4 linked regions of the Homo sapiens genome follow. The protein of the gene in region 4 interacts with the protein of the main gene of each other region in a pairwise test. Each region holds a gene or a part of one and is shown on either strand. Other genes may lie near its edges.

The links.
Region 1: the proteins of AGPAT4 (region 4) and FCRL3 interact in binary tests that used the Homo sapiens proteins (3 or more experiments, as listed by UniProt).
Region 2: the proteins of AGPAT4 (region 4) and GPR101 interact in binary tests that used the Homo sapiens proteins (3 or more experiments, as listed by UniProt).
Region 3: the proteins of AGPAT4 (region 4) and SLC7A8 interact in binary tests that used the Homo sapiens proteins (3 or more experiments, as listed by UniProt).

Annotation. Positions count from the first base shown.
Region 1 is NC_000001.11:157,676,747-157,683,769, forward strand, and holds part of FCRL3 (Fc receptor-like protein 3 isoform 1 precursor), read right to left. Parts: intron 6,499-7,023; coding exon 6,471-6,498; intron 4,354-6,470; coding exon 4,235-4,353; intron 4,025-4,234; coding exon 3,956-4,024; intron 2,228-3,955; coding exon 2,196-2,227; intron 2,111-2,195; coding exon 1,964-2,110; 3' UTR 23-1,963; coding exon of another isoform or gene 1-22. UniProt on the Homo sapiens protein: Promotes TLR9-induced B-cell proliferation, activation and survival but inhibits antibody production and suppresses plasma cell differentiation. Enhances activation of NF-kappa-B and MAPK signaling pathways in TLR9 stimulated B-cells.
Region 2 is NC_000023.11:137,030,989-137,038,624, forward strand, and holds the start of GPR101 (probable G-protein coupled receptor 101), read right to left. Parts: upstream 3,008-7,636; 5' UTR 2,814-3,007; intron 779-2,813; 5' UTR 687-778; coding exon 1-686. UniProt on the Homo sapiens protein: Orphan receptor.
Region 3 is NC_000014.9:23,173,650-23,180,672, reverse strand, and holds part of SLC7A8 (large neutral amino acids transporter small subunit 2), read left to right. Parts: intron 1-7,023. UniProt on the Homo sapiens protein: Associates with SLC3A2 to form a functional heterodimeric complex that translocates small and large neutral amino acids with broad specificity and a stoichiometry of 1:1.
Region 4 is NC_000006.12:161,271,051-161,278,976, forward strand, and holds the start of AGPAT4 (1-acyl-sn-glycerol-3-phosphate acyltransferase delta), read right to left. Parts: upstream 3,012-7,926; 5' UTR 2,888-3,011; intron 1-2,887. UniProt on the Homo sapiens protein: Converts 1-acyl-sn-glycerol-3-phosphate (lysophosphatidic acid or LPA) into 1,2-diacyl-sn-glycerol-3-phosphate (phosphatidic acid or PA) by incorporating an acyl moiety at the sn-2 position of the glycerol backbone.

The sequences.
Region 1 (7,023 bases), on a different chromosome or scaffold from region 4:
TGTTCTTTCTTGGGTTCAGAATCTAGAAAATGGATAAACAATGATAAGAGATGACAGGTCCCTTAGAGAAAGTTCACTATAAGGCACAAAGGGGCTTGGCAAGGTAATTCCAAATCAGCAGCAGGGTTAGAAAGGAGGAGAGCCTCCATATACAGCCTGGTGGTTGGTACCCAAAACCGGTTTACATATTTTCACCATAGAGAAAAAAACAGCAGAATGTATCACATAGAAGACAGAGACATTTGCCTCCTCCCTCTTCAAGGGACCTTAAAATTTTAATGCCAATATGAACATGAACTGGCAGAGATCAGCATCTCAGTACGGGCAGGACATCATGCCCTGCACTCAAAGGCCAGGATAAGGGTAACAGAGGCCAGTGGGAGCAGTGTGGATTGATCATCACATTTTTTGAGGCCAGCAGCTGTGGCTTAGCTGGCTTTGCTGGTCGTAATGGAGGACAAAAGTGCCTTCTGGTGAAACTCAGCTTCCATAGTGATGGAACCTAAGGGTAGCAGAGTTTATGGTGACCCTGTAGTGTATCTCCAGAAATGGTGATTGTTTGAATGCATGTAAGACATTCCCTAGGGACTCCAAGAAATATTGATTAGAGGAAGATGTGGTGCTTTGAAAGGGACTTGGTGTTCCTACATGAACCAAGTGAAGGCCTAGAATTGGCAACATTCAGAGATTAATGTTAATATAATCTCAGTTGTCCCTAGGACTTGAGGTGTTCAGAGATATTTGGAAACATCAGGATTTCAGAATGGAGGTGAAGTCACTGAAAATTGTTGGTACATTTTCATTTTTGTCATATTAAAAATTCAACACACTGTGGAAAGAGTTTTTGATGGTGATAGCTAGGAAAACATTAAGCCAGATATTTTACACAAGTAAATACTAAACAGCAATAAAAACAAATGAACTATAGCAACACGCAACAATATGGATGAATCTTAGAAATACAACATGAAGAGAAAGTACTAAAAAAAATTATCTACAACAATATGGTCTTTAACTTATAGTTAAAACTAATATAAAAACATATTTAAGGAAAACATGTAGATACATTAATATGATAGAAATAGGAGAGCATGGGAATAATGAACATGAGATTTAGAATGGTTTTTTATCAGATGGAGTGAGGTAGAGGAAGAGAATGGGAGAAGCCACATAGATATAGTAGGTTATTGTCTCGGGGTTAATGGGTGCTTATAAGAATAAAACTGACTGACTAGAAATCTATCATGTATGGCAAATGATGAGACTATGTCATGAAGCAAAAATTACAATTAATGTGATTCTTCACACATAAGGTCTTTGCAGTGGGGATACAAGTCACATATTAAACTAGCAGAGTCTTTAATGAAATGCTGAAGTTATTTTTCATCATAACTAGGGTAATTTGGTTGGGAATGTCACCCTGTAAGTACAAAAATACACTTCAGATAGAGTCACCTTAAATTCTTGTTCTATAACTTCTTTTGGCTGTTCCCAATATGGTAGCAAGGATACAGCATATACACCAAAACATCAGCAATGCCACTACCAGCCACACAAAAAAGGGAAACAAAATATTTGGAGCAAATTGTTTATACAGAGAGCACATTAACAGCTTTCGATCACACTTGGATCAAATGGTCATGATTGTGCCCTTGTAACCCTGGCTAGACCATTTCTCTCTCCTCCTCTATTCGACAGCCCTAGGAGCTGAGGGCCCTCCTGCCTTGCCACGTGTCTCCACTGTGAAAATAACACAGTGCTTGCTCAGAGGCTGCCTGCTCTCTTCCTGGGGAACACACAGATCAGGCACAGGGGAGATTTGCAGACCTTTTGCTCAGCCTCACATACCCTGCAGCCCAGCCTCGTAGGAGGCAGAGTCTGGAGAGATGGATGATGTGTGGTTGGAGAGAACAGAAAAAAAAATGGTGCAGGCTGTTTCCTGTGGGCCACTCTGGGTAAGGGGCTAGTGGTCTGAGGCCAGTAATACACGTGGTACATTCTCATAGTTTTCTTCATCATCTTCTTCATGGGCCCTGCCTCTGCTGCTAGCCTCCCCTGCAGAGTCGTCTGGGTGTGTCTTCTTCAGTTCTGAATAGAGGACTGTAAGTTCCTGGTAGAAAAAAACACAAAAGGTAAGTACCTAAATACAGGAGAGGAAGGCCAGAGAGGAAAGAAAGCCAAGAAATGTGACTCACCTCATGCTCTTGATGCATCATTGGACAATTAGCTGTTGGGTAGGAGTAGCAAAGAAAAGTATTAAACTGTGGGCAATATATTCCAACTTACAACGTACGCACACTGCATTCCAAACCAATCTTCTTGATTTGCTTGATCTCTTGCTGTTTCCTCTGCTGGATTCTTCCAAACCCACATAGAAAAAGTACTCCAAGCCAATCTTCTTGATTTGCTTGATCTCTTGACTGTTTCCTCTGTTGGATTCTTCCAAACCCAAATAGAAAAAGTACTGCCCCAAGCACAAACACTAATAAAGACTTTCCTCTGCCCACCAAATGCCCAGAACTATTTTCATGACAATTTCCTTCTTGCTCCTCTGCTCATTATAACCCCAGAGGGGCACCCACCCCCAATCCACTGCAGACTTCTATGGCTGTATTGATCCTCTGGGAGAAGGAGGCAGATATGAGTCACTTCACTTGCACAGGGAAATTGGAAGAGACCAGAGAGGAGATTGGCATTCTAAGGCCACATGACAATTTCCCAGGAAGCCAAAGAGTTGCATTGGAGCATTGAGAAAATTTAGTGTGTGTGTATGTTTTCTACCTTTCCAAGGGGCTGTTTGTATCTCTTTTATTTATTTGTGCAGCCAATAAGCAATGCCTTCTATTAGGCATTAGGTAAGGTATAAGGAGATAGAAATGACAGAAACTCCTGGACAACATAGTGAAACCCTGTCTCTACTAAAAATACAAAATTTAGCTGGGCATGGTGATGCATGCCTGTAATCCCGGCTACTTAGGAAGCTAAGGCAGGAGAATCCCTTGAACCCAGGAGGCAGAAGTTGAAATGAGCCAAGATCGCACTGCTGCACTCCAGCCTGGGCGACAGAACGAGACCCCATCTCACAAAAAAAAAAAAAAAAAAAAAAAAAAAAAATGACAGAAACTCAGTTCATGTGATCAAGAATCCTATAATTTTGAAGGGGAGAAATGGACATAGAAATAAATGCAACAAGCATTATGGGCACCAAGACAGAAATACATATTGAACTATGTTGTTACCATAAAGAATAAATGTCTCCTCCCAGATTAGAATATGGAAAGGGTAGTTGGCATCAGTGTGAGTTTCACTGTTACCTGATCTATGTCTTGAAATATGAGTAGGGGTCACCAAGTAGACTAGAGGAAAGGACATTTCAAGACCAGTAAGAAACATGAGCACCAAGCATAAAGGTGCCAAGAGTTCAGTATGGCTAGAGGAAGAACATTAGGCAAAGCTTGCAGGAGGAGCCAGCGTGCAGAAGGCAAAGATCATGCTTTGGAATGGGTGTCATTGAGGGCAGTTAATCTAGGCACTGATGTGAACAATAGAGCACCTCAAAGGGATCATGCTGGAAATAGATTTTGGGAAGGCTGGAGGAGAACAGTAGTAGAAATAAAGAGACCAGTTAAAAGAATGACAATTGTCTCCACATTTGATTATTCACTCATTAATTCAAACAATATTTTAGGGGGCCTACAGTTTTCCAAGCATTGAGCTAAATGCTGTGAATACATTAGTGAAAAAGTCACAGTGTCTGTCCTCAAAGAATTTATGGGATCATGGTGGCAGTATGTAAAGGTAAGAAGAAATGGATAGATTCTACAGCTGACACTATGGGAGGCAAGTAATGCCTTGCGTGTTGGGCTTGTATTTGAAATAACTCTGATCAAAGACCCCTTGCCCGTTTCAATAAAACACTGCCACCTCACCTCTATTTGCCTGAAAGGCATCTTACCTGAGTTTTCTTTTGTATGCTGGATGCTCCAGATCTGGGAATAAATCGGGTTGCTATCTCCAGGATTTACTGTGAGAGAAGATATCATAGTTGGTTGCAGTCAAGAGCTCATATTCTAGACTCTACTTCCCAATCACCAAATTCATAACCAACTTCTATTCCCAGTGTAATGCTAGGAATGTCATTTTTAAATTTGTGACAGGGCCATGGGCTGTCGCTCAATCCCTCTTCCCTCCCTGGCTCCTCCCTAGAGCCTTCTGCCCCCTAGGGAGTCCTCACCATTGCTGTACATTGGCTCCAGCTCCATTGGGGCTAGTGGTTTAGAGTGAGTGGGCTCTTGAGGGTCTATCCTGGAAGGCCTGGACGAGGAAGGCTCCTGACACTCACTAGGACTGTGACTGTGACAGAGGGGGAGAGAATGGATTAAAAAGTATCTGTGGGTTACACAGAATTTCAGGGAAATCAATATTCTGGAAGTCCTCCAGTCCAGCATGATTCAAGTAAAAATATTGTGTCTGCTTCTGCTTGGGTCTTTTTTTTTAATTTTATTATTATTATACTTTAAGTTTTAGGGTACATCTGCACAATGTGCAGGTTTGTTACATATGTATATATGTGCCATGCTGGTGTCCTGCACCCATTAACTCGTCATTTAGAATTAGGTATATCTCCTAATGCTATCCCTCTCCCCTCCCCCCACCCCAAAACAGTCCCCAGAGTGTGATGTTCCCCTTCCTGTGTCCATGTGTTCTCATTATTCAATTCCCACCTATGAGTGAGAACATGCGGTGTTTGGTTTTTTGTTCTTGCGATAGTTTGCTGAGAATGATGGTTTCCAGTTTCATCCATGTTCCTACAAAGGACATGAACTCATCATTTTTTACAGCTGCATAGTATTCCATGGTGTATATGTGCCACATTTTCTTAATCCAGTCTATTGTTGTTGGACATTTGGGTTGGTTCCAAGTCTTTGCTATTGTGAATAGTGCCACAATAAACATATGTATGCATGTGTCTTTATAGCAGGATGATTTATAATCCTTTGGGTATATACTCAGTAATGGGATGGCTGGGTCAAATGGTATTTCTACTTCTAGATCCCTGAGGAATCGCCACACTGACTTCCACAATGGTTGAACTAGTTTACAGTCCCACCAACAGTGTAAAAGTGTTCCTATTTCTCCACATCTTCTCCAGCACCTGTTGTTTCCTGACTTTTTAATGATCGCCATTCTAACTGGTGTGAGATGGTATCTCATTGTGGTTTTGATTTGCATTTCTCTGATGGCCAGTGATGATGAGCATTTTTTCATGTGTTTTTTGGCTGCATAAATGTCTTCTTTTGAGAAGTGTCTGTTCATATCCTTTGCCCACTTTTTGATGGGGTTGTTTGTTTTTTTCTTGTAAATTTGTTTGAGTTCATCGTAGATTCCGGATATTAGCCGTTTGTCAGATGAGTAGGTTGCGAAAATTTTCTCCCATTTTGTGGGTTGCCTGTTCACTCTGATGGTAATTTCTTTTGCTGTGCAGAAGCTCTTTAGTTTAATTAGATCCCATTTGTCAATTTTGGCTTTTGTTGCCATTGCTTTTGGTGTTTTAGACACGAAGTCCTTGCCCATGCCTATGTCCTGAATGGTATTGCCTAGGTTTTCTTCTAGGGTTTTTATGGTTTTAGGTCTAACATTTAAGTCTTTAATCCATCTTGAATTAATTTTTGTATAAGGTGTAAGGAAGGGATCCAGTTTCAGCTTTCTACATATGGTTAGCCAGTTTTCCCAGCACCATTTATTAATAAAGTATCAGAAGACTTATGGCACAAGGTGAAGCCCAGGGAAGCATTACAAAACAGGACAGCCAAGGCAAGGCCAGAGGGCCAGCAGCCTCAGGGCCTCTTTGAAAGGCAAAAACTCATATTTGACTAATTTTAAATGTTATTTTTGAAGATGTAAATGATTAAACACTGATACACAAAGACCTCTGCATTCTTACAGAACTTAAACCTTGTCTTTTTTAAAAGGTCCCTTTCAGTTTTACACCTCATATTACAATAATCTACCTTTCCTGCAAGATGCCATGCGAGCTCTTCAAGTAAAGTGGATTTTTTTCCAATTTCATTTCCTTCTGCAGTTAATATTGTGAATTGAACATTGCCAGCATTCAATAATAATTTCCCAAATGAGTGGAAGAATGAGGAAGAAGGAAATGAATGCACTGTAGCCCTATGAAAGGTAATGCCATTAAGACATTAGTGGTCAAGTCTCTGCTGGAACACATTTAAGGAAGTAGATAAATTAACATAGATAGCCAATAACATGTATTGTGTTTAAGTAGAGACAGTGAATATCGTTCACAAATATAAGTGAAAGTGACATTCACTTATATCTACTTTTTTATTTTGTAAGAACGTAAAAATGCTACTAGGAAATCCATTGAAATTTAAAAAAAAACATAAACAAGTCTCGTGCATATAAATAAATCATGAAAATGTTGGCAGCACAAGAAGCAGAGACCTCACCTAGATGTTCCAGTGGCAGAAAGTCCTCCTGCAAAACAAACAAAGGAAGGTTGGTGGTAAGTGAGCTGTGTAAATAATGAACTCTCTGTTAGAACATTTTTTCCTAGAAATCAGATTCATTCTAGATCTAAGCTACGGAAAAACTCAAGGATTATCCAGCTCCACCCTCCTTACTCCCCCTATGTTATGTTATAGGTCAGGAAGGTGGGGTCTTGAAAGGCATTTGCCCAGAGTCACACTCATTCTGAATCATTTTTCAATCAGTAATAGGTGAATAGCAACTCTAAGTAGTTGTGACTGAGTAGGTCACAACCTGGGTCAGGTGCTCCCCTCAAACCCACTTCTTCATCCTGACTGCAGCCCTACAAAGTGGAGACAAGGAGACTGAGGCCTAGAGGGGCCAAGGGATGCTCAAAATGGATACAGAATTCCTTCACTAATATGAATCAATGGGACTACCATGATAAGCTCTACCTTCTCTTTCTCTAACTGTGACCCCTCACCCCTGCAAGTCTATTCCAGCAACACTGAACTGCAAATCATGTGGGTATGT
Region 2 (7,636 bases), on a different chromosome or scaffold from region 4:
ACATTGTACAGCAGAGCATGCTGCCTCCGGGCTGCACAGAACACCACGGAGTAGCAGGCAATCATGACAATCAGTGGAATGACGATGAAGGACACCACGCTGAGAATAGTGTAGCTGGGGCTGGCCCCCCAGATCATGGAGCAGAGAGCATTGCGCTCATCAAAGGCAGCCTGGCCCCAGCCGTAGAGTGGAGGAGTGCTCTGCAGGATGGCCACAATCCAGGTGCCATAGAGGAGCAGGTAACCGCGGCGCTGGGTCATCTTGGACGGGTAGGAGAGAGGGTGGATGATGGACAAGTAGCGATCCACTGACACCACGACAATGGTGTTGACGCTGGCGAAGGCGAACAGGTGGGTGAGGCTAACCAGGGCCGTGCAGAAGTGGCTGTTGAGGGGCCAGAAGAGAGGCACAGAGGTGGCCACCACCCAGGGGGCCACGAGCGAAATCTGCAGCAGGTCGGTGACGAGGAGGTTAAAGATAAAACGGTTGGTCACCTGCAGCAGCTGCGGCTTGCGCTGCAACACTAGCGCCAGCACTATGTTGCCGACGAAAGAGGCGGCGAGGAAGATAACCAGCACGGTTGAGCGGATGATGCCGTGGGCCAGGCTGATGGGCATTTTGGAGAGGGGCATGCACGTGTGGCTGCTGTTACTCTCGCGCGTGCTGTTGGTGCAGGTGGACGTCATGGCAACAGCCAGAGGGCGTGAGACAGGTTGCAGGCTCAGTGCCGGCACCGGTGGGTGGCAAAGGGGTGCACAGACCGCACTCAGTGCCTATGCTGGTGACAAAAGAAACACGCAGGCAGAGTTAGTCACCCGTCAAGGGGAGAAGCCTCCGCGCCCAGCAAGGACGCTGCAGGACCCCCTACCCCGGGTTTCCGCACGGCTCCATCCCCAGTGCGGGCAGCTTCTATGGCTCCTTTCCGGACTCTCCAGATCTGTCTGCCTGTCTCTCTCCAGGGCTCTGATTTCCTCTCATCTGTTTCTCCTGCTGGCGCGTGCGTGCGTGCGCTTTCTCTGCTTGTCTCTCACACTGTCTCTGGCTCCGGGGAGTTTTGGTCGCTAGCGCTAGCGCATGCGCGTGCGCTCTCTGTTTCTGTCTGTTTACGACCGTCAGTTTCTGTCTCTTCTCCAGTGTCTCTCGCTAGCGCACTTTTTTTCTTTATCTCTCGGGTTGTGTGTCTGTATGTGTCTCACCGTTTCCTGATTCTTTCTCATCCTTGTCTCTCACTTATGTCTGTCTCTGTTTCTCCGTCTCTCGATAGCACGTGCACGCTGTCTCTTTCCTGTTACTCTCATTTATCTCTTCCACTCTGTTTGTCACTCAGTCTCTCTGTGTGTGTCTCTTTCGCTAGCGCACTTTCTCTGCAGGGCTTGCGCTCTCGCTCCCTATCTTTCTCACAGTCTTGCCCGTCTCTCCCTCAGTCTCTTTCTGATCCATTCTGTCTCTCTGTGTCTCTGCCTGTCACTGTGTCGCTCGCTAGTTCATGTGTGTCTCCGTCTTTCCCTAGTGCTCTCTTGTCTCTCCATTTCTCTCTCAGTCTATTTCCCCAGCAGTTCATCTTTGTGGGTCCCTAGCGCACCTGTTCAATGTCGTTCGCTGTGTCTCTGCCCGTCTCCGTGTCTCTCCAACTCTCTTGTTTCTGCGTCTCCCTCGGGTTCTCTGGGTGTCTCCTTCTGTCTCTCACTGGCACGTGTGCGCTTGCTCTGTCTTTCTCGGACCCTCTTGTCTCTGTGTCTCTCCGTGTGGTTTCTGTCTCTCCCTGCCTAAGTTCTCTCTGCATTACTCTGCCTCTCTCTCCATTGATCTCTAACACTCTACTGCTTGTCTCACCTGTCTCTCAAGCTATCTCTTTAGTGTGTGCACTCTCTCGTTGGTTTCTCTGTCCTTCACTTTCCTGTCACCCCAGGACTCTGGCTAAACACTTGCTTTGTATCTTTGAGTGTGTGCGCATCTCTATTTCTCTACATCTTTTTCCCATGGCCCCTCACCTTGGTTTTTCTCTGGCTGGATCTCTGTCTCTTTGGATCTCTGTCTCCCTGTGGACTTTATTTTGCCGTGGAAACCACCTGCCGCCCCGGCCACCGCGGGCTTTGGTTAAAAAACCCTTAGTTTATCAGCAGTGCAATGGAGACTGGAAAATGCAGAGAGGATGCCTATTGAGCTCCCCTACCCTCACCCTCCACAGCCCCATCCCCATTCCCAATTTGGCATCCTCTTTGCTTTCTCCGGATCTGCTTGGTGTCGGTGACAGCCGAGGGGAGTGGGAAAGGAGCTGGGGAGAAAGGCAAAAGAGGCAGGGGTGCAGGGTGGTGGAGAGAGTCAGAAAGGCAGGGCGAGAGAGACTGAGAGGCAGAGAGACAAAAAGGAAATGAGAGACAGCGAAAGAATGAGATACATACAGAGAGACAGAGAGAATGTGAGCAACAGAGAGGGAGAAAGAAAGAAAAAAGAAGAAATGGGAGCGTGAGAGTGAGAGAGAATGAGAGAGCAAGACAGACTGGGAGAGACGCAGACAGAAAAAGCAAAAAATAATAAGAAAAGAGAACAAGCAGAGGAAGAGGGAAAGGATGAGGAAAAAACGAGAGAATGGAGAGGAAGGGGGAAAAGAACGCACGAGAAAAAGTGAGAGAGAAAACGCGAGGGCGGGAGGATGGCTAGGGAAAGGCGAGAAGGGGCCGCACCGCGGGCCACCGCGCCTGGTAGCTCAGCAGCCGTCGGGACGCTTCAGAGGGGGCGTCGTGGGCTCCCAGGCTCGGGGCCCTGCCGGGTGCTGGGGGCCACGGAGCCCGGAGTAGGGCCGGGCTGCTTACCTGTTGCTGCTGCAGACGTGGCGTCGCGGGCGCCGCGTGCAGGTCCTTCGGGGCTCCTCGCGCTCGTCCCGGCCGCCTCTCGGGGCTCGGGCGGCTGCGAGCTGGCACGGGGCAGCGGGCGCTGCGGGCGCGGCAGGAGCGGGGCACAGCGTCTGTGCCCGCACGTCCGGCCAGCGCGCCGCGCTGCAAGCTCTGAGAGGCAGCGGGGGCGCGCGGCGTCTTAAGGCAGCGCGGTGCCCTCACCTTGCGGTGCCGCCCTCCCCTCGGCCCCCGCCTGCGCCCGTGACGCACGAGGCCGCCGCAGCCCAGGGAGCGGGGCTGGCAGGTGGGGGGCCGTGCACCAGACCCCACTCAGATTTTCTCACTCCGGGTTCCCACCCCTGGGGCCCCGAGTCCACCGAGAGCTCACAGACTGGGGATTGTCACCGGGGCTGATTTTCGTGCAAACCCCGTGCCTTCCTAGCCCCCTGATTTCGGGCCAGCTCCCAGGCACAGACCCTGCACTATCCTTCCGATTCTTCCAAATAGGAGGGCCCGGGACTCCCCTCGACTTCTGAAAACCCTCCAAAGTATGAATAGCCCCTGAGCCCGAGAAAGGAATCGTGACTTTAATGTCAACGATTTTCCACGAATTTCTCTAGCTCCCAGGAAGAGCTAAGCGGCAGTGCTTTCCCTGTGGGATTTGGAAGCATTTCATTTAAGACAAGCCACATAATTACCCACTATATTCTTTGATTGAAGTATGTCTGTCTGTAAGTCAGTCAGCATCTCTCCCTCTCTCCCTCTTTCTCCCCCTCTCTCTGCCAGGTACTGTGTTAAACTGTTTACACAGAGAATACCGCTGAATCTTTACCCCAGCCTTGTGAGATAAGTACCGCTATTATCTTCATTTTATAGAGACAGAAGCAGAAGCCAAGAAAGATTACCCTACTTGCCTAAGTTCAAGTAAATATTGCACACGTTCTATTAGCCAAGACATTCTGGTCTCTCCTAAACACATACTGGGTATTTGTTGTATATCAGGACTGAGGAGGCCCCCTCTTCCCTGCCCCCAGAAGGTAGGGAAGGTGACCCAGACCAGGGATCATTTGCATTAGATTTCCAAGGGATTAGGAGGTGTTTTCTAGGCAGGGCACAAGGGGAAATGTGTTCTGTAAAAAGAAGATGCATGGGGTAAAACTAGGGCTGCAAGAGAGACTTGAGTTCCAAAGGCTGGGAAAACAGGCTGCAGCATGGTGAGTGCCAGGAGGTTAGCTGGTTAAACTGGGTAGAGACAAATCCTGAGGGGTCTTGAATGCCAGTCTGCAGACTTCGGACTTTACCCTGAGATCCCTGGAGGTCGTCGGAGAGTCGTTTTATTATGAAAGACTTCAAGCATACACAAACGTAATGAGAATAATAAAATAATCCTCCATGTTCCTATTACCCAGCCTTCACAAGGGTAAATAATTTGCCATTCTTGTTCATTGGTGGGTTTTAGGTAGGGCGATATTCTAAAATCAGGGCTGGTGTTGGATGGAGAAAGCTGAAGGGAGGCTGTGGCAGGAGACAAAGAGGGTCTTGACAGGTCCAACAGAGCGGGGCAAGCAGAGACCTACAGAGAGGCAAATTGACAGGGAATAAGGGCAAGGAGGTGTTGGGGAGGGTCTAGAATGAGCACAGGGTTTGGAGTTGGTTGATGGGCTGGATGGAGATACCTCCTCCCCTTCTCGTCACCTGCCTCTGAGACAGGGAGATGAGACAGGTGTATAATCGGGCCTCAAGAATGCTCTTTGGATCTGGAGTCCTGCATTTGCTCTTAGATCATTTGTCCTTTTTCTGCTATGCCTGATTTTATCTCCCCAAGGTTGAATGGTAAAAACCTGGTCATTTTTCCTAGAGACAGTTTCCGTGATAATCACTCACAGTTATTATTAATTCCTAGCTTCGTGCTGGCCATGGTACAGAATCCTGGGTGGCATGCACTGTCAAGCGGTAGTTTGTTCAGACTCAATGATTTTACAATCACTTGGGAGGCAGTGAAGCTGCTAGAAGTGGCCAGAGACAAAGGCCAGTCTTTCTTGACCTTTCCTATTTTTATTGTGGTTGTGACCATGCCCGAGACTGCTAGGTTCCAGCAGGGGACCCTCTAGACACATGTTAAAGATTGGTGCCTCAGAGGGATGGGCTCATGGAGTCTGCAGCTGCACTTTTGGGCACGAAGGGGGATAATAGGGAGTGGAAGGGGTTGGGTGGGATGAGGCCTCTGCAACTGAGACAAGCCTGCCAGCCGGAGATAGGAAAAAAGCCAGAGAAGTGCTAGGAAATAAATACCAGCTATTTTTCTGTATAGGGAGATGTTTGAGGGTGGTTAATCCTCCGGTGTCTTCTCTTTCCCTCCAGATGTGAGCAGAGTAGGTATTCTTGGATTTCAAAGACATCCAAATATCAGTTCCCCAACTGGAAGTATGTGGTGGAGCTTTGGGGAATGTGGATTTGGCTTCCAGCCCTGCAGGCTCTGATTCTGATAGCCTTGAAGGAGCCCTTCAACTGACAAGCCTCATTACATTCTGGGGAGAGTCTTTGGGATGAAACAGGGAGACTTTGGGATGATGGCTTAAGAAGTCACCTAGTCCTTTTCCCTACCTTCATAATTCAGTAGCAGCAGAGGCACGATCAAGCTGATGATATTAATGGACCAGGACTAGAGGGCAAGAAGCTACCAACAAGAAAGGGCCCAAGGTCCCATTGACAATCACACGTTGCAACACTGGTCAGTAGTGTGCCGGCCTCAGGCTTGTTCACCTTGTCAGACTAATTGCCCCAATTGCTGTACCAATAGCTAGATGAGGGAAGTTGGGAAACCCAAGACTCAGCCAAGTATTAGTTCTAGTCATTCATTCTAGTAATAAACGGTGCAAGAGTCCTTGAGTGCCTACTTTATGCTTGCTGTCTTGTATTAAATCCTTGAGGAAGCTCTGCAAGTTAGGAAACAATACCGTATTTTCTGAAAGCATGACACAGTACATACCACTAGGAAATGGAAAAATGCTGAACATTTAACCATCATACCATGGCTAACAAGATACATCTTGATTTCAAAGATGCTAGAATGTGAAAAAAAATGTGCTTTAGAATCAATGTAAGACAGTATCATCCCTGTCTTTACAGAGGGGTTAAGTAACTTATCCAAGGTCACACAGCAAATAAGTTTTGGAGCTGAGAGTTAAAGCCTACTCTAACTCCAAAGCAGGGGCATTTCCTAGGCTACATCAAGGAAGAGTGCAGAGACAAGACAGAAGGGCTCCCAGACCCAGCTCAGATAAAATTTTTGAATCTAGGTGAAAGGGGACTAGGAGTTGCTAGAATTGTGAAAAGACAAGTGCATTTGCAGTGGTAATGGTTTCTTTTTGTAGGACAGACACATGGTTCCCATAGGTGGTAAAAAGACTAAATCAGTCAATCTAAGTTCTAAGTCACACTCCTTTTTGCTTAGCGAGTTCATAATAAGTCGATGGGGAAAAATATATGGTTTTGTTCTGGAGTGCCTACCCATGGGGGTGTTTTACATTTTTCAGTGTTATGTGTTACTCTGGAATTCACTTCAGGCCAACTCCTAGAAGCTGTGTTTGCAAAACTGAAACAAAATCAAGTACCACCTGGGTGTGAGCTAATATTGCACATTCTGTGGGTTTGGGCAGTACAGAAGTTCTGGATTTCAAAGCTATGTCTATCCAAATAAACTAATTTGGAAGAGAAAATCAGCAGAAAATAACTTGATGGATTAAAACTAGAGAGCAGAAGACTTGAATTCTAGCCCTAATTCTGTGGCTAACTTGCATGTAACTTTGGGAAGATCCCCTTCCTCTCTCTGATCTCACTTCTGTAATCCACCAAATGAATGTGTGTGTGTGTGGTGGGGCTAGGGGTTGGATGTTAGGTAGTCTCTAAGGATCCTGTCAGTCTATGACCTTTGATGCCATCTACTTTCTATCTGAGTGTTATTTTTAAAAACCCAAAACTAATCTGACCCAAATATTAAAAAAATTGAAAGCTGGACTCTGCTTCTGGCCATGAAAGAATAAGAGACAGGATTTACCCTTTTATCTTAAACAACTAAAAAAGTGGACAACATACATAAAATAATAGTTGTTAGACATTGGAAAATAGACAGTACAGCACAGTGATCTTCAAGAAAAGAGAAACAAATGAGGTGAGCCCTACAATTGCCTCCGTTTACTACCTAGAGAGAATTTCCAGTCCTCTGTGCAGGAAGAAAGAATCCAGGCTGAGCCTGGAAGTCCGCCTAAATTTAGGAGACAAAGTTCAGAATTCAAGGAGGTGAGGGTGGGCAGAATTTGCAGAGCAAGGTGCCAGAGGGGCACTGCACAGAAAGAGTACTCCGGAACTCTGTAAAAGATTTCCCTCAAGGCTGAATACTGATCAGCACATGCATGTAAAGTATGCAAGGTTGGGATAGAACCACTCAAAAGGAGTAGGAGGAGTGATTTGTAGAGCTCACACAAGACTGGGAATAGCTCAGTTTCCCAGTAGTCAGAGAGAAGAGACTTCATAAGATACAGTGCATCAGACTAAGTGCTCAGAGGAGGATTGCCTCAGTAGTGGAGCCAAACTAGCCTTAGTGTCAAGTATGCTCTGATCCCACATATGAAAGCTTAAAAACAGGCCCCGGTGTGTGATGTTCCCCTTCCTGTTGTGGGGTGGGGGGAGGGGGGAGGGATAGCATTAGGAGATATACCTAATGTTAAATGACGAGTTAATGGGTGCAGCACACCAACATGGCACATGTATACATATGTAACAAACCTGCACGTTGTGCACAT
Region 3 (7,023 bases), on a different chromosome or scaffold from region 4:
TGATTTGTCCACAACCTTATGGATGGTACTTCAATGGGAGAATAATCTCAAAGCTCCCCATGGTGGCATTACAGTAACTAGAATGGCAATTCTGGTGTTCTGTGATGAAAAGAGATTCCAAATATGTGATTTCAGAGAAATTGGGATATTTTTGCAAAACATGAGAATCCTTGTAGAGTTAATAGGCACTATTCTACCCCAACTTAAGCTAGAAACAAATTTCCCCTTTAAGATGATAACAGGGGACAAAATCCATTCTGCTTCCCCTCCCGAGTTGCTGTTGAGTCACAGATGTGCTGAGGAACTGCCCTTTCCTCTTCTGGAGAAGTTTCTCAGTGGATGATCGTGATTCAAGTGTTTTCAAGACCAAATGCAAAAATAGAAATGGCATTTTCTGTGTAGATTTCAGGGATCTGGTGTCCAATGTCAACACTGCAGAAAAAAAGAGAACTAAAAGGCAAAAAAAGGGCCGGGTGCGGTGGCTCACACCTGTAATCCCAGCACTTTGGGAGGCCAAGGCGGGCGGATCACGAGGTCAGGAGATCAAGACCATCCTGGCTAACACGGTGAAACCTCGTCTCTACTAAAAAATACAAAAAATTAGCCGGGCGTCGTGGCGCATGCCTGTAGTCCCAGCTACTCGTGAGGCTGAGGCAGGAGAATTGCTTGAACCCAGAAGGCAGAGGTTGCAGTGAGCCAAGGTTGCGCCACTGCACTCCAGTCTGGGTGACAGAGTGAGACTCCATCTCAAAAAAAAAAAAAAAAAGTCAAAAAGAGAAAGGAAGTTTTCTAAGTGAATCAGGAGACATGTTATGGAAAAGTAGAATTTGTCCCATCTTTCTTTCTTTCTTTCTTTTTTTTCTGAGACAGTGTCTCGCTGTGTTGCCTAGGCTGGAGTGCTGTGGCGTGCTCACTGCATCGCTGCAGCCTCAAACTCCTGGGCTCAAGCGATCCTTCCACCTCAGCTTCCTCAGTAGCTGTGACCACAGGCATACACCACGACACCTAGCTATTTTAAATTTTTTCTTGTAGAAACAGGGTCTCACTGTATCGCCCAGGCTGGTCTCCAACTCCTGGGCTCAAGAAATCCTCCCACCTCGGCCTATCAGTGCTGGGATTACAGGCATGAGCCACCGTGCCCGGCCCCCAGATCTTTTTTTTTTTTTCAGGGACTGTGGCAAAGTTACATTTGCCCTAAATCTATCTCTCTCATACCTTACTGACTAAGAGGGATAATTTAAACTACATGTTTTGTAAAATTTCATTCACAATCAACATGGATGATTGAAAGCAAGGATAACAGAATGGTAGGTGTTATGGAAATATACAATGAATTAATAGAAGACTTATGCCAGAGAGTTCCTTATATCCTGATTGGGAGGATGAGATGCATATGTACTAAACAGAGAACATTCAAAATTAATGACATGGTTTAGTTGTGAAAGAGCTAAAGTAGGGCAAAGTTATGTGAATGGTGGGAAGCCAGGAGAGAGAGGTTCTTACTAAGAACTAGATTAAGAAGCATCTTGAAGGCTTTGAGGAGAAGATGAAGTAGGGGAGCTGATTCTGGGAGTTTTCTTAGGTAAAAGCATAATGACTAAACTGTTATTTCCTAGATCAAAGATTGTGTCCGTAAAAAAAAATTGAACTATGAGAAAAATTGAGCCAGGTGTGGTGGTGGATACCTGTAGTCCCATCTCCTTGATCATTTTAGCCCAGGAGTTTCAAGCCAGCCTAGGCAACAGAGCAAGACCTCATCTTCATTTTTTTTTTTTTTTTTTTTTTTTGGAGACAAGATCTCACTCTGTTAACCAGGCTGGAGTACAGTGGTGCAATCATAGCTCACTGCAGCCTCGAAAGCAATTCTCCCACCTCAGCCTCCCAAGTAGCTTAATAATTTTTAAAATTATTTTTAATTTTTTTTAGAGACAGGGTCTCCCTATGTTGCCCAGGCTATCTTGAACTCCTGGGCTCAAGCAATCCTCCTGCCTCAGCCTCCCGAAGTGTTGGGGTTACACGTGTGGGCCACCGTGCCCAACAAAACCTTGCCTCTTAAAAAAAAAAAGCAAGTGTCTTATATGTTTCTGAATCTTTAGTGTTTAACAGAATGCCTGCTAAGGAATACTTACTCAAATGATTGTTGAATTTAACCGACTCTAGGACAAAAATATGAATAGGAAACATTTATCTGCAGGGCTGCTGGGAACCTGGCTTGAAAATCTTTAAGCTAGGAGTAGTTTTATCAACCTGGACAATTAGGTTGGCCCATTTTAATCTTTTAACATCATCCTTGTCCTAACCTAATCAGGCTTTTGTTCTCCATGTACTTGGCTAAGGAAACCTGTTGGCAGCATATTAATTTAGATTTCACCATGAACGTGGAGTTCCCCCCAAAGTCGAAAGAGGGTGCGGAGGACAGCAAAGTTCATTTATTAATGATACCAGAGCTACTGTTAATAGCTGTGTTTATTAAACACTTAGTATATGCCAGGTACTCATCCAATTACCTAACATACCTGAACTTATTTGTCATTCACAGTAACTCATTTGGTAGACACTTTATTACCTCTTCCTCCAGATAGGAAATAAAGGCTCAAAGGGGTAAGCAACTTTGCTGAAGGTCACACAACTAAAAAATATTGGAGCTAGGATTCAAACCCAGAGCTTGTCTGCATCCTGAATCAAGCTTGTAAGCATTATTCTTCACTATTTCTATTTTTATCTCCTAAAGGAGTATTTTCTTTTAGAATCTGGACAGAGGTCCTTATTCATTTTTATAGATGAATGAATACTTATTGTATAGCAATTAATTTTGTGTTCCCAGTGAGGAAGACTCCCAGTATAGCAGGGGAGCTGGGCTGTCAGCTGGGAGTGGAAGAAAGTAATATTCCCGGTGCAATTGCAGGAAGACTTGGGTGAGCCTGAGGGGCATCTGGCCAGCACAGACCATGCTCGCATTCATTCCTGCACATGCACACCTTTCCTTTATGGACCAGTGTTCTTCCCAGCCGTGTTAGAGGTACCCACAGAGTTCCTGGCCATTTAGGTACTTTATACCAGTCACGTATCTAGGTATGTAACCAGAATCTGTGTCTTGAAGGCATTAAAAGGAAAACCTTAAACAAATTAAATTTAACAGTGTTTAATTGAGCAAAGAACAATTTGTGAATCAGGCAGCCTCTTGAACCAGAACTGATTCAGAGTTTCTGGGGCAGCCTCATGGTCGAAGAAGATTTATGGGCAGAAAAAGGCAAGTGACATACAGGAAATAGAAGCAAGGTACAGAAACAGCTTGATTAGTTACAGCTCTACATTTTCCTTATTTGAACAAGGGTTGGACAGTTGGCTGCCTTTGATTGGCTGAAACTCAGTGAATGGTACAAAAGTAGGTTACAGTCTATTTACACATCCAGTTAGGTTACGTTTCACTACATATGGAGAAATCTTTAAGTGGAATTTAAAATATGTAAGGAGGCAGCTTTCAGCTAAACTTAACAAAGGTGAAAAAGCTGGCCAGAGAGCTGTAATAATAAAATTAAAAAGTATATAATGTCAGACCATTTTGTTTTCAGCACAATTTATGTTTTTGGGGGATCTTGGTATATTTGCTACAGAACAATACTGGATGCTGATCTAGCTACTAGACCACTATCTCCCAACTAACATGATTTTTTAAAATAGTATTTATTGAGCTCTTACTAAATCCCAATTTTTTTTTTTTTTTTTTTTTTGAGACAGAGTCTTGCTCTGTCGCCCAGGCTGGAGTGGAGTGGGGCAATCTCGGCTCACTGCAACCTCTCCCTCCCAGATTCAAGTGATTCTTCTGCCTCAGCCTCCTGAGTAGCAGGGATTACAGGCGCGAGCTACCACGCTCAGCTAATTTTTGTATTTTTAGTGAAGACAGGGTTTCACCATGTTGGCCAGGCTAGTCTCGAACTCCTGACCTCAAGTGATCTGCCCGCCTTGGCCTCCCAAAGTGCTGGGATTATAGGTGTGAGCCACCGCGCCCAGCCTAAATGCCAATTCCTGAGCTATAAGCTCTTTACATATATTATTTTATTCAATCTTCCCAACAATCTTAAGACAGTACTTATTATAATTACCTGTACGTTAAAAATGGGGAAATTGAGTCACAGAGCTGGTAGCTAATTTTCCTAGGGTCACACCACTGATAACTGAGATGACTCCATAGCCAGAACACTTAGCCATTTCTCATTTCTAATTGGTAACCAAGACAGGAGGAGGCTGATATATATTGCATGGTGGGGCAGTTGGCCATGGAGGAAGACAACCCTGAGACTGGAGTCCAGAAAGACCACGGATGTCTGATACTGAAAAAATTGGGGGAAAAAATTTTAAGGGTTTCTGTCAACAGAGAGGTGTGGCTATGGGTATAACTGTACTGAAATGGCTCTGGACTGACTTGGAAAAATTTCAAGTATAAAAGATCTCACACCCATGTGGTCTATACCACTTTAGAAGATTTTGCATTTTAGTCTCTAATATGATGTATTAGCTTCTAATCCCAAAAATGTCTACTGGATGTTGACCAGAGGGAGGGAGTGTGAAAACTGCTTCTTGAGTTTGTACTTCAATTAAAAAATACAAATACACTCACACAAAACATAGAGGGATTACGATTTGGTTCATTCAGGATGAAAATGTGATTAAAACCCTCATTGTTCTCAAATAAAATTCTGGGACAGAAGCCAGCTAGGAGGTATTTCAAAACAAACACATCTTGGTGAGTAGGGAAAGGCTATATGCCCAGCAATGTAATAATAATAAGTAGCTGCCATTTACTGAGCATACATTGCTAGGTGATGGTAGAGCCTAGATTCCCACCAAGGTCACTAAAATCTGAAGCAACTGGGCTTAACTAAAATGCTCCTCAGTCTGGAGTGCAAGGTGGCCGGGACCAGGGATCCTGTTGGACACTTCCTGACTCCAGGAACCAGAGAGCTAAAGGAGTAATTTGGTTGAATCTGCTACTGTCAGGGCGATAATACATTCCCTCAAAGAGCAGAGTTACGCAGAATGACTGACTAGCAGGAGATGCTTAGAGTGGAGGAAAGAAAGTAGGAACCCGGCAGGTAAGAAACTATGTCCAAGAGACACACCAGACAGCCATTTTAAACAGTCACAGTTAAAAACACCCTGTACCGGCCGGGTGCGGTGGCTCACGCCTGTAATCCCAGCACTTTGGGAGGCCAAGGTGGGTGGATCACTTGAGGTCAGGAGCTCGGGACCAGCCTGGCCAACATGGTGAAACCCCATCTCTACTAAAAATACAAAAATTAGCCAGATGTGGTGGCAGATTCCTGTAGTCCCAGCTCCTTCGAAGGCTGAGGCACGAGAATTGCTTGAACCCAGGAGATGGAGGTTGCAGTGAGCCAAGTTGCACTACTGCTTACTCCAGGACTCTGTCTCAAAACAACAACAAACAAACAAACAAACACAAAACACCACTGTACCCAAACCAAATAACCTTCTCAAGAGCGGCCAGCACCATATATACACTTTTCTGAGTTAAATCAGCTTATTGAAGTGGGGTAGAGGTGTGGGGCATCTTGGCTGGGGCTTCTCAAGTTGCCAGGCTACTGAGGTTTTCTGTCTTTTTGATGGGTAATCCAGCAGCACAGCTGCCTTCAAAGAAATGCCTCAGGAATGTCTGTTGTTGTTTTGTTGTTATTGTAGGAGAGGGAGATGGATCTAGAAAAGCAGGCACATGCAAATGATCCCAGGAGTATATCCCAAACTACAGAAAATAAGAGCCATTCAGGAACCCAGGGGGCTAGAAACTGTTTCTTTCCAATGTTTAACTCCCCGCTGAGCATACAGAGCATGGAGGACCATGCCTTCTTTCCCCTTCCAGAACGCGTCTACAGAGCAGGCCCCCAGATCCCTTCTCCCTGGAGATCTGGAAATGGCAAACTGCAGGCTCCTCTCTGCTGCAGGAGTGGGAGCAGCTGGACATAGGATTCAGAATTATTCCACATTTTAACAAACACTCACCGAGCACATTATATTCTAGGCCTTGTCCTGAGCACTGGTGAATTTTATTTCTAGGAGGCAAAATAATCCCTCAAGTCTATTTTAAGCTGTTTTATTTATAGAATGAGTGAAGTTTGAGCTGAAAAGCTCTATTGATCACATCTCATCCCTCATCTTTGTCACAGTCACATGTCTTCCCATTGGTTTGCTCCCTGCTTTAAATATCCTCAGCATTAGCAGTGACATCACTTCTGGGGAGAAGGTTTCACAATGTCTGAAGGTGGACCAGGCAACCTCACACTGAACTGCACATTGCAAAAGCAGATTACTCAGAAAGAGTACCACTGCTGCAGAATTATTACTTTTCTCATCTGTCTCCACGTTTTAAAGGTGCTTGTTTGTACATTTAGGAAATGCACAAATACTTCAGTGCTTTTTAAGAGTACAGTTCTGCAGAGAGTGTTTAGTAAGCAGCTGATAAAGACAGGTCAGGTTGACTTAAGGTGGTATTTGGACCCTGATATTGAAAGCAGAAAGTTTAGAGTGAATTTTTCCATGATTTGCATCGGCATGCCATAGACTGGGAGGAACCACTGATTAGAAAAAGATGGGCTTTAGAGATAGTCTTAAGTTTGCAAACCGCTTCCCTATTTACAATCTTTGTAATCTTGAGCAAGCTAATTATCAGTTTACTTAGCTGTGCAATGGAAGTTTCTTGTGGAGTATTTAAACAAAGCTGGCCAGGTGGGGTGGCACATACTTGTAATTCCAGCACTTTGGGAGGCTGAGGTGGGAGGATCACTTGGATCCAGGAGTTCAAGACCAGCCTGGGCAACACAGTGGGACCCTGCCTCTACAAAATATTTAAAAATTAGTCGGGTGGGGTGGCACACGCCTGTGGTCCCAGCACTAGGGAGGCTGAGGTGGGAGGATTGCTTGAGCTTGGGAGGCAGAGGTTGCAGTGAGCTGTGATTGTGCACTCCAGCCTGGGTGACAGAGTGAGACCTTGTCTCAAAAAAAAAAGTAAAA
Region 4 (7,926 bases):
GGATTCTGCCTTCTGTTCAGTCTTCTAACAGTCCTTCTTTTTCTGATTAAGAAAAACTTCTGTCCCCAATTTACATCTACTTATGCTTTCAACCAGCACAGAGTATACCTGCTCTACTTCTATACTAAAGACTGACTTCTCCCTTCTTGGAGTTAAGAACCCTGAACCATGATCCATTTCTTACCATCCACCTTTGCTATCTAAGACACCCTCTCCTTCTTCCCTTGAACCGTCTGCCTCCTCTCCTATAAAGCTTCAGCAGCAGGATGAAGACTCTCTAGTATTCTTCTCATACTAATTGCGTCTCCTTGACTGGCTGTTGCCTCCCCCTTCCTTCCAGCTGGGTGCTCTGCTCTTCTTTTCGCCACCCGTTTGGTGGATTTTAAGCTTGAGAGCACAGACTACAACTGCTGCCTTCTTCACCAACTTCACAGCAGAGCCTTGCAGACAGTAAAATCCCAATAAAATGACGGCTGACTCACCCTCTGGGTGTCACCTCTGTCAGCCTCTTCCATGGGACCCTACGTTTACTTTATACTCACAGCTCCACTTACCTTCCCTAGGCCAAAGCTGCTAACTGCTTTAACCTCTACTCAGCATCTGAATATCAGACAGTGTTTTGTTTGTTTATTGGGTTTGGGTTTTTTGTTGTTTTTGTTTTGGCTGTGCTTCTGAGGAAGTCTTGCTCTTTTTCCTTTCAGTTCTATTCCATTAGGCTTTTTGCTGTGAAATTTTGAATCTGGAAACTCAAGAGAACCGACATCGCAGACTTTGATTTACATGCTGTCAATCTGCTTTGGAAGGTCATGTGGCAAATCTGCCCTTGAGGACCATTTTCAGACAGGAAAAACAGTAATTTCAGCCTGGCTGCTTTTCAGAATTCTTTGCAAACATCAGATGCTCACAATCCAACCGTTTCTCTGTGTACTAACATGTGCTTTTCAAAATGAGTGTCATATTCTTTTTAGTAATACTTTTCTGTGTGTTATGCCCTTTAAATAGTTCTCGTCTTTAACTCCATGTGGCTCTGGTTTGTTTTGTGCCATGCTATTTTGCCCCATTTTCAGGTAACTTTTCTACCTGAATTACTTAGGACCTCTGGATTTATAGCAGATTTGATAAGACATAGATGATAGCATATTTAGATAAGGATCACAGCAAACAGAACCTCACTGAAACCACCCATTCTTCCTGCTTCCACATGGCAGGGTTGCTCAAGGTTTATAAGTAATGATTTTGGCTTTAGCAGCCGGAAGGTATGAGGGCTAAGTGACCTTCACACATGTTTATCTTAAATTATAGATAATTTTAAGAGTCATGAATGGGATTACTACTTATCTATTTTATAAAAGCTAATTATTTGGGATGCCCATCAGAAGAATGGTATCCCTTATCAAACGCTTCCTTAGACGTACTGAATAAAAGCATCAGTTTAGCCGGTACCTGTTAAGAGGCTATGTCTTTCTAAGAGATGTGTTATTTGATTCTAATTATAATTAACTTTGCTTATTACTAAGTAGATAATAATTTTCTCATTTCATATTTTTTCTGAATAACAGTTTTTCTCCCCATAGAGAATATTCAGAAGATGGAATCCTTTTAACGTAGAACTCAAGATGTGCCCTGTTCTCCCTGCCCGCCTCCCATTTCCCTAAACACACACACACACACACACACACACAAACACACACATTCTCCCTTCTCTCAAGATACTTTTTTTCCAACTGAGAGTCGTTGACTAATCACAGATGAGTTAATCCTTCCACAGTTTTGAAAAAGTCTAGCAACCCTCACCTTGAAGAGAGTGAATAGCGTGGCTAATCCATCTAAGAACAATGCACGAAAACGAAAAACGGAGAATCCTGCCCGGCAGTTAATTTGTTACTCATACTTGTTGAACTTAAGATTTGGAGCTAAATAAGTGCAGATGAGAGCAAAGACCCATCTTTTAAATATTTAAGCTTTTAGGCAAACCTGGGCAGGCAATATCACATTTATCAGTGCGAATTCTCCAATGCTCTCTAAAACTTTATTTCAATGATCTCACCTCCTGTAAGGAATTAATTCCCCCTTAGCTTGACCACAGGATCAATATCTTATCTTAAGAAGTGTTTAGGTTTTCTAAAAAAAGACCAGACACTGAAGACTTACATAAACATCAAAGCATTCTTTTTTTAATTCCTCGATATGGAGAAATTCATAGGCCGAAAATTAGGTAAATAGAGAGGTAATTACCAATGCCTGTTTCCTTGACAACTCCCCTCCCCCACCCCTCCTGTGATAGGGAAAAACCAAAATGAAAGTGAGGAGGGGTAGCCACAAGCCATGCTGGATTTTAGCAAACCAAAGCAAGAAGCAGAGCAGAAAGCTGCAAACTAGACACAAAATACAAATAAATCAATGTATATCGGGGCTGCATATTGTGTAGTATTTTTGTGGTTGCCATAGAAACGTCAGCGACGGAAGAACATGTTGCATGACACAAAAGAGAGCAATATGTAATAGGAACATTCCCCCCACCACCACCCCCCGCCCAGCTTCGTCTATAGCAGAGAAAATGCTTTAGCCCCGGGAGGGGGCTGGGTGGGTGGGTAAATGAAGCCAGGAACAGCAGCTTGAAATCACAGCCCAGAAAGGGACGCTCACCCGGCCCAGCACAAAGCGAGGGTCCTTTTGTACCAGCAGAGCCTCTCTTCGCCTCCCTCCAGGCGCCCCCTGCACCTTTCCCCCGCCCGCCTTGCACTCCCCCCCCGCCCCCGGAGCCTACCCCTTCCAGAGGTCCTAAGGAAATCCAGCCCAGGAGAGAAAAATATGCTGGGAAGAGGAATGCAAACATCAGCCACACCCAGCGGGGAAGGTGCCTGCGAACGGCACCAGGACCACATACCTCCTTCCTGGCAGCCTTTGGCACATGGACTTAGAAACCAGAAGCTGAGATGGAGCCGGCTGGGTTCAGAAATTGCCACTAGTTTATAAGAGCTGTAAGTCAGCCAACACTGGAAAGAAAAAGCGAGACTCCACCCATGGGGTGGACCCTTCAGGAAGAAAAAAAAAAAAAAAGTGGTCCTCAGCTGACGTCTCTCCCCACCCATGTCACTTCCTTTTAAAGCTACAAGTTAGCAGTTGCCGAGAGGGAAGAGCGAGCTGGTGTAATATGAGTCACTCCCTTCCCCTTCCAATTAGTGTAAGGCAGTGCTTCAGTTGGCTTCACGTTTGAAATCGCTTTTGAAATCTGGCTCGGGAAGCTGCCAGGATAAAAAAAAAATGAAAGCCCCCTGGAAGTGGCCTTGCTTTCTCTCCCCTTTCTCCCAAATCCTGTTGCATCCCTGCGCCCTAACGGCTCCTCTAACCTCAACCCAGACTCCGGCTCCGTCTGTGTTGCAACCTGGAAATTGTCCTCAGTTGGCTCATTTTTAATTCAGCAAGCGTAGGATCAATATGCCCACCCTCAAAACTCTCCCCTCACCTCTCCTCGGTCCGCTGTGCTGGAAGGAGATTGCGTTGCACTCAGAAGAGTCCAAATCATCTTAAACAAAATAAGCCTCAGCACTCAAGAGATTGAGATGTTATGAAGTGGGATGAAAGAAGCTTGGAGGTCGATTGATGTATTTTCTGTTTTCAAACCTTAGCACCATGGTTGATTACCACTGCACAGGCGTGCACACACGTACTGTCGCATGCTCACATGCACGTGGCATTTACACAGGTGTATCAGAGAGGGTCTGGGCAGACCTTTATAGTAAAAGTGTCTTCACAATTTTTAAAAAGGGTGGGCTGTTGAAAGTCCAGAAATGCCAGGATCTAGAAAATTATTTCAATTTCAAAATACTGAGGTGTATTCCTTTCAAATGTCCACTATTACAGCCATTGTCAAAATAATATTTAACTATTTACTTGACTCCTGGGTTAACCTTGTTCTTTAGATGTTTATAATCTATAAAGGAAAAATACATGTGCTCACAAATAGCCCAAGCACATTGCAGAATTACTAACAGCTATGCAAGTGTCAAAACCAGTGTGTCATGAAGACAGAATAGAAAGTGCTTTTTTGATTGCGATGGGGGAAGGCATTGATCATTCAGGAAACAGGGTTTGGAGTGGGTCCTATGGGAGGTGGCATTTTTCTTGTCTGTGATGAGAGACGGGGAGAGTGAAGCAGAATGTGGTGGAAGAGAAAGGATATGTGAGGCAAACAAAAAAAGGATCAGAACAGAAACCCATTTGTAGCAATAACTTGTTTTAATATCCATGTGAAAATAAATTTGACCACAGAGTAATGCTTATAAAAGATTTTTATAAAAAGTTCCTTGTAGTCATCATCTCTCGTAACTTTTCGAACTATGTTTTACGACCCATGTGCTTCTAGATTTGGTGGAAACTTGAGTTTTTCAAAGTGTTTTTCAAGTAGAGTTACACTGTTTTTCACGGTTGAATTCTGAATGGTAATTTATTTCAAAACCTACAAATTGCATAAATTCCTGATAATGTTATAAGTACAGTCAGTGATTTCAGTGGAAATGATAGGAAATTTAAAATTTGGACAATTGTAACTTTTATCCTGATCTCAGTACTTTAACATCCTCATTCCATTATTACATTACAATTATTATTATACTTATTATTGCTAACACTTTGCCTGTCTAGACAATGTTGCTCAGTCCCAGTTATCTCAGATATAGCTGAGAAATATGGGAGAAAAAGTTACTATTTCTAAAAATTTAACATAGAAATTCAAAATTCATGGATTAAATCCTATGCTTTTTTTTTTGAGACAGAGTCTTGCTCTGTTGCCCAGGCTGGAGTGCAATGATACGATCTCAGCTCACTGCAACCTCCACCTCCTGTGTTCAAGCAATTCTCGTGCTGCAGCCTCCCAAATAGCTGGGATTACAGACATACACTACCACACCCAGCTGATTTTTTGTGTTTTTGGTTGAGACGAAGTTTCACCATGTTGCCCAGGCTGGTCTCTAACTCCTGACCTCAGGTGATCCACCTCCACCTCCCAAAGTGCTGTGATTACAGGCAGGGAGTCACCACGCCCAGCCCTATGCACATTATTGAGTGCCATTTAGAGTCTATCCTTATGTGCCCTTATTTAGCTATTTCTATCTATACAAGGAATTGTGAATATTTCCAGGTCACAACGTAACAACTCAGTTCAATGTATGTTTATTGAGCATCCATGTTAGTTGCTGAAGATACAAAAACACAGATAAGACATGGAAATGGCCCCAAAGTGCTCAAAGTCTTAGAAGGGAAAGCGAAATGTAAACAGTTAAGACACAATGGAGGCAATGATTGACATTTGTACAAGATTCAGAGGTGGTTCGAGAATGGGAAAAGGAGAGGGAGGATACATCTACATAGTTTCTTAGCTAACAGTGGACTCTAAAAGGGGTGGAGGTGGACAGTATACTCATCCGTGAGATGGTAAGAAATAAATACTGGCAGTTGGAGAGAGGAGAAAAAAATTGAAAAGGAGACACAAATCATAAATTGGTAACCTAAAAAAGATATATAAGTGGTCCGTAAACAAAGAGGCAACCTTACATAAAAATACAAGTCACAAAGTAAGGATGTTATTTCTTTGCCTAGTCACTTGTCCAACACTCAAAAAGCTAGAACGTGCAGTGCAGAGAATGCAATGCCATGGGTTCTCTCTTCTGCTGGTGATGGCAAATTGATACAATCTCTGGAATTCAATTAAAGAAGATTTTTCATGAGCCTTTAAAATGTTCATACCCCTTAATCCAATAATTCGACTCAGAATAATTTATACCAAGGACATAAGCAGAGATAAATTCAAAGATTTGGGAACATGTATATTCATCAGAGCCATTTATAATAGTAAAGTCTGGAAACCATCTGAGTGTTTGAAGTAGCAGGTTAGCTATGGAAATGATGTAATCTTCATATGATGAAACACTCTACAAAAAATTAAAATTCTGTGTTTGAAAGACCTAGGGAAATTCATGGTATCTTAAGTGTAAAGGGAACTAAGCTTTATATAAATTATGGTCCCGTTTTCGTGATTCTATAAATATATATTACAGTGTGTGTAGTGGGTTGAATAAGTGTCCCCCAGTGTCCCCCACAAATTCATGTTCACCCAGAACCTCACAATATGAATTTGTTTAGAAACAGAGTCTTTGCAGATGTTAATCAGCTGAGACGAAGTCATTCTGGATTAGGATGGGCTATAGACCCAATACCTGGTGTCCTTATAAAAAGAGGAGAGGATGCAGAAAGACACACACATAGAATAAGGCCATGTGATGGCGGAGGTAGAGATGGGAATGATGTGTCTATGAATCAAAGATTGCTGGCAAACACCAGAAACCAGGAGAGACGCATGGAACAGACTCTCTGAGAGCCTCCAGAAGGACCCAACCCTGCTGATGCCTTAATTTTAGATTCCTGGCCTCGTGAACTGTAAGAGAATAAATTTCTGTTGTTTTAAGTCACACAGTTTGTGCTAATTTGTGATGGCAGCTCTGGGAAACTTAATGCAGTGTGATGAAGATCATGAAACTGTTAATAATCATTACTTCTGGAGAGTGAGATTGAGGATGATTTTTATTTGCTTCTTTATATGTGATTGCACTTTGGAGAACTTTCTACAATGGATGAACACGTGTGACTTTTACAGTAACAAGATTAGGACTAAAAACCAAATAACCTAGGTTTCTGAAACTGTTTCTGCAATTTAGAACAGACATAAACAATAATCAGTGATGCTTACGACACGGTGAGTCCTGAGGAGTAACATATTTTCAAAGCCCAGTGAGAGGTAGAATTCTGCATATCTCAGAAACTTCTTTAAACCTAAGTTTTGGTACTTAAAATGATAACTATCACTTATCTGAAATGTGAACTTACACACTATGTATTAACTGTTGTGCTAGATAGTGGAGTCACTGATGGCATTGTTACAAATTGCCCATTCTGTTAGCACAATGTTATTACACATTAACAGTATTTTTGCTTTATTTCCACTTGCCTCGTGTTGTGAACATTGATACAACATCCACACAAACCTATACACTGAGTTTAAAAATGTTCTCAAGTTATACAATATGAAGATATAGATTTGCAACTATGATGACCTCATTATGTGCTACATTGGAAATTGTGGCTGCTTAGAGGAGACAAAGGAAAATTGTAAATGCTAAAGTTAATTTGATATTTGGGGTCTATAATCTTATATTTAATAGTTATATATGTCAATAAAAACCCAATAAAGTTCTTAAAATGTTGTATGTTTTTATGACCAACAAACTCTTACGGCTCTCGTTATTATTACAATCATTTCAAGTACGATCAAAGAGGTGTAACATTAATATCATTGGGGAAAGTGCAGAGGAACTAAGAAAAATTTCCTCCTTTGCCAACAATGGTTATGACCTAAGTTATTCCCATAAGATGGATGTATTTACAGAACCTTCGTTTCTATTGATTAGCTCTCAATGAATCTTAACACTGAATTTTATGCTAAAAATTGTTCTTGATATTTACTTGGCTTTTTTCTCTTATTGCCATCTTCAGGTCAATTCAGCCCGCCTGAGATGGCCCCAGAAAGCCACCCACTACCCTGTCCTGAATTCAGGCAATGAGCAACTTGAAATCATACGATACAGAAGCAAATCTACCACAACAGAAGGAACTGAATTCAAATCAATTAACGCATAACTGATTGGCAACAAATTGAAAAAGATACCAGTTTCACAACCTGATTTTAAAAGACAAGGTAATACGATGCCAATACTGAAACCTAGCACTTGTATTCTTCATAGCCAAGTGACAATAGAGCACATTAGTTCAAGTGGTATGAAACTTGGGATGATTTTTACTGTCATTGCATGGTATGTGATTTTTTTTTTTTTTTTTTTTTTTTTTGAGACGGAGTCTCGCTGTCGCCCAGGC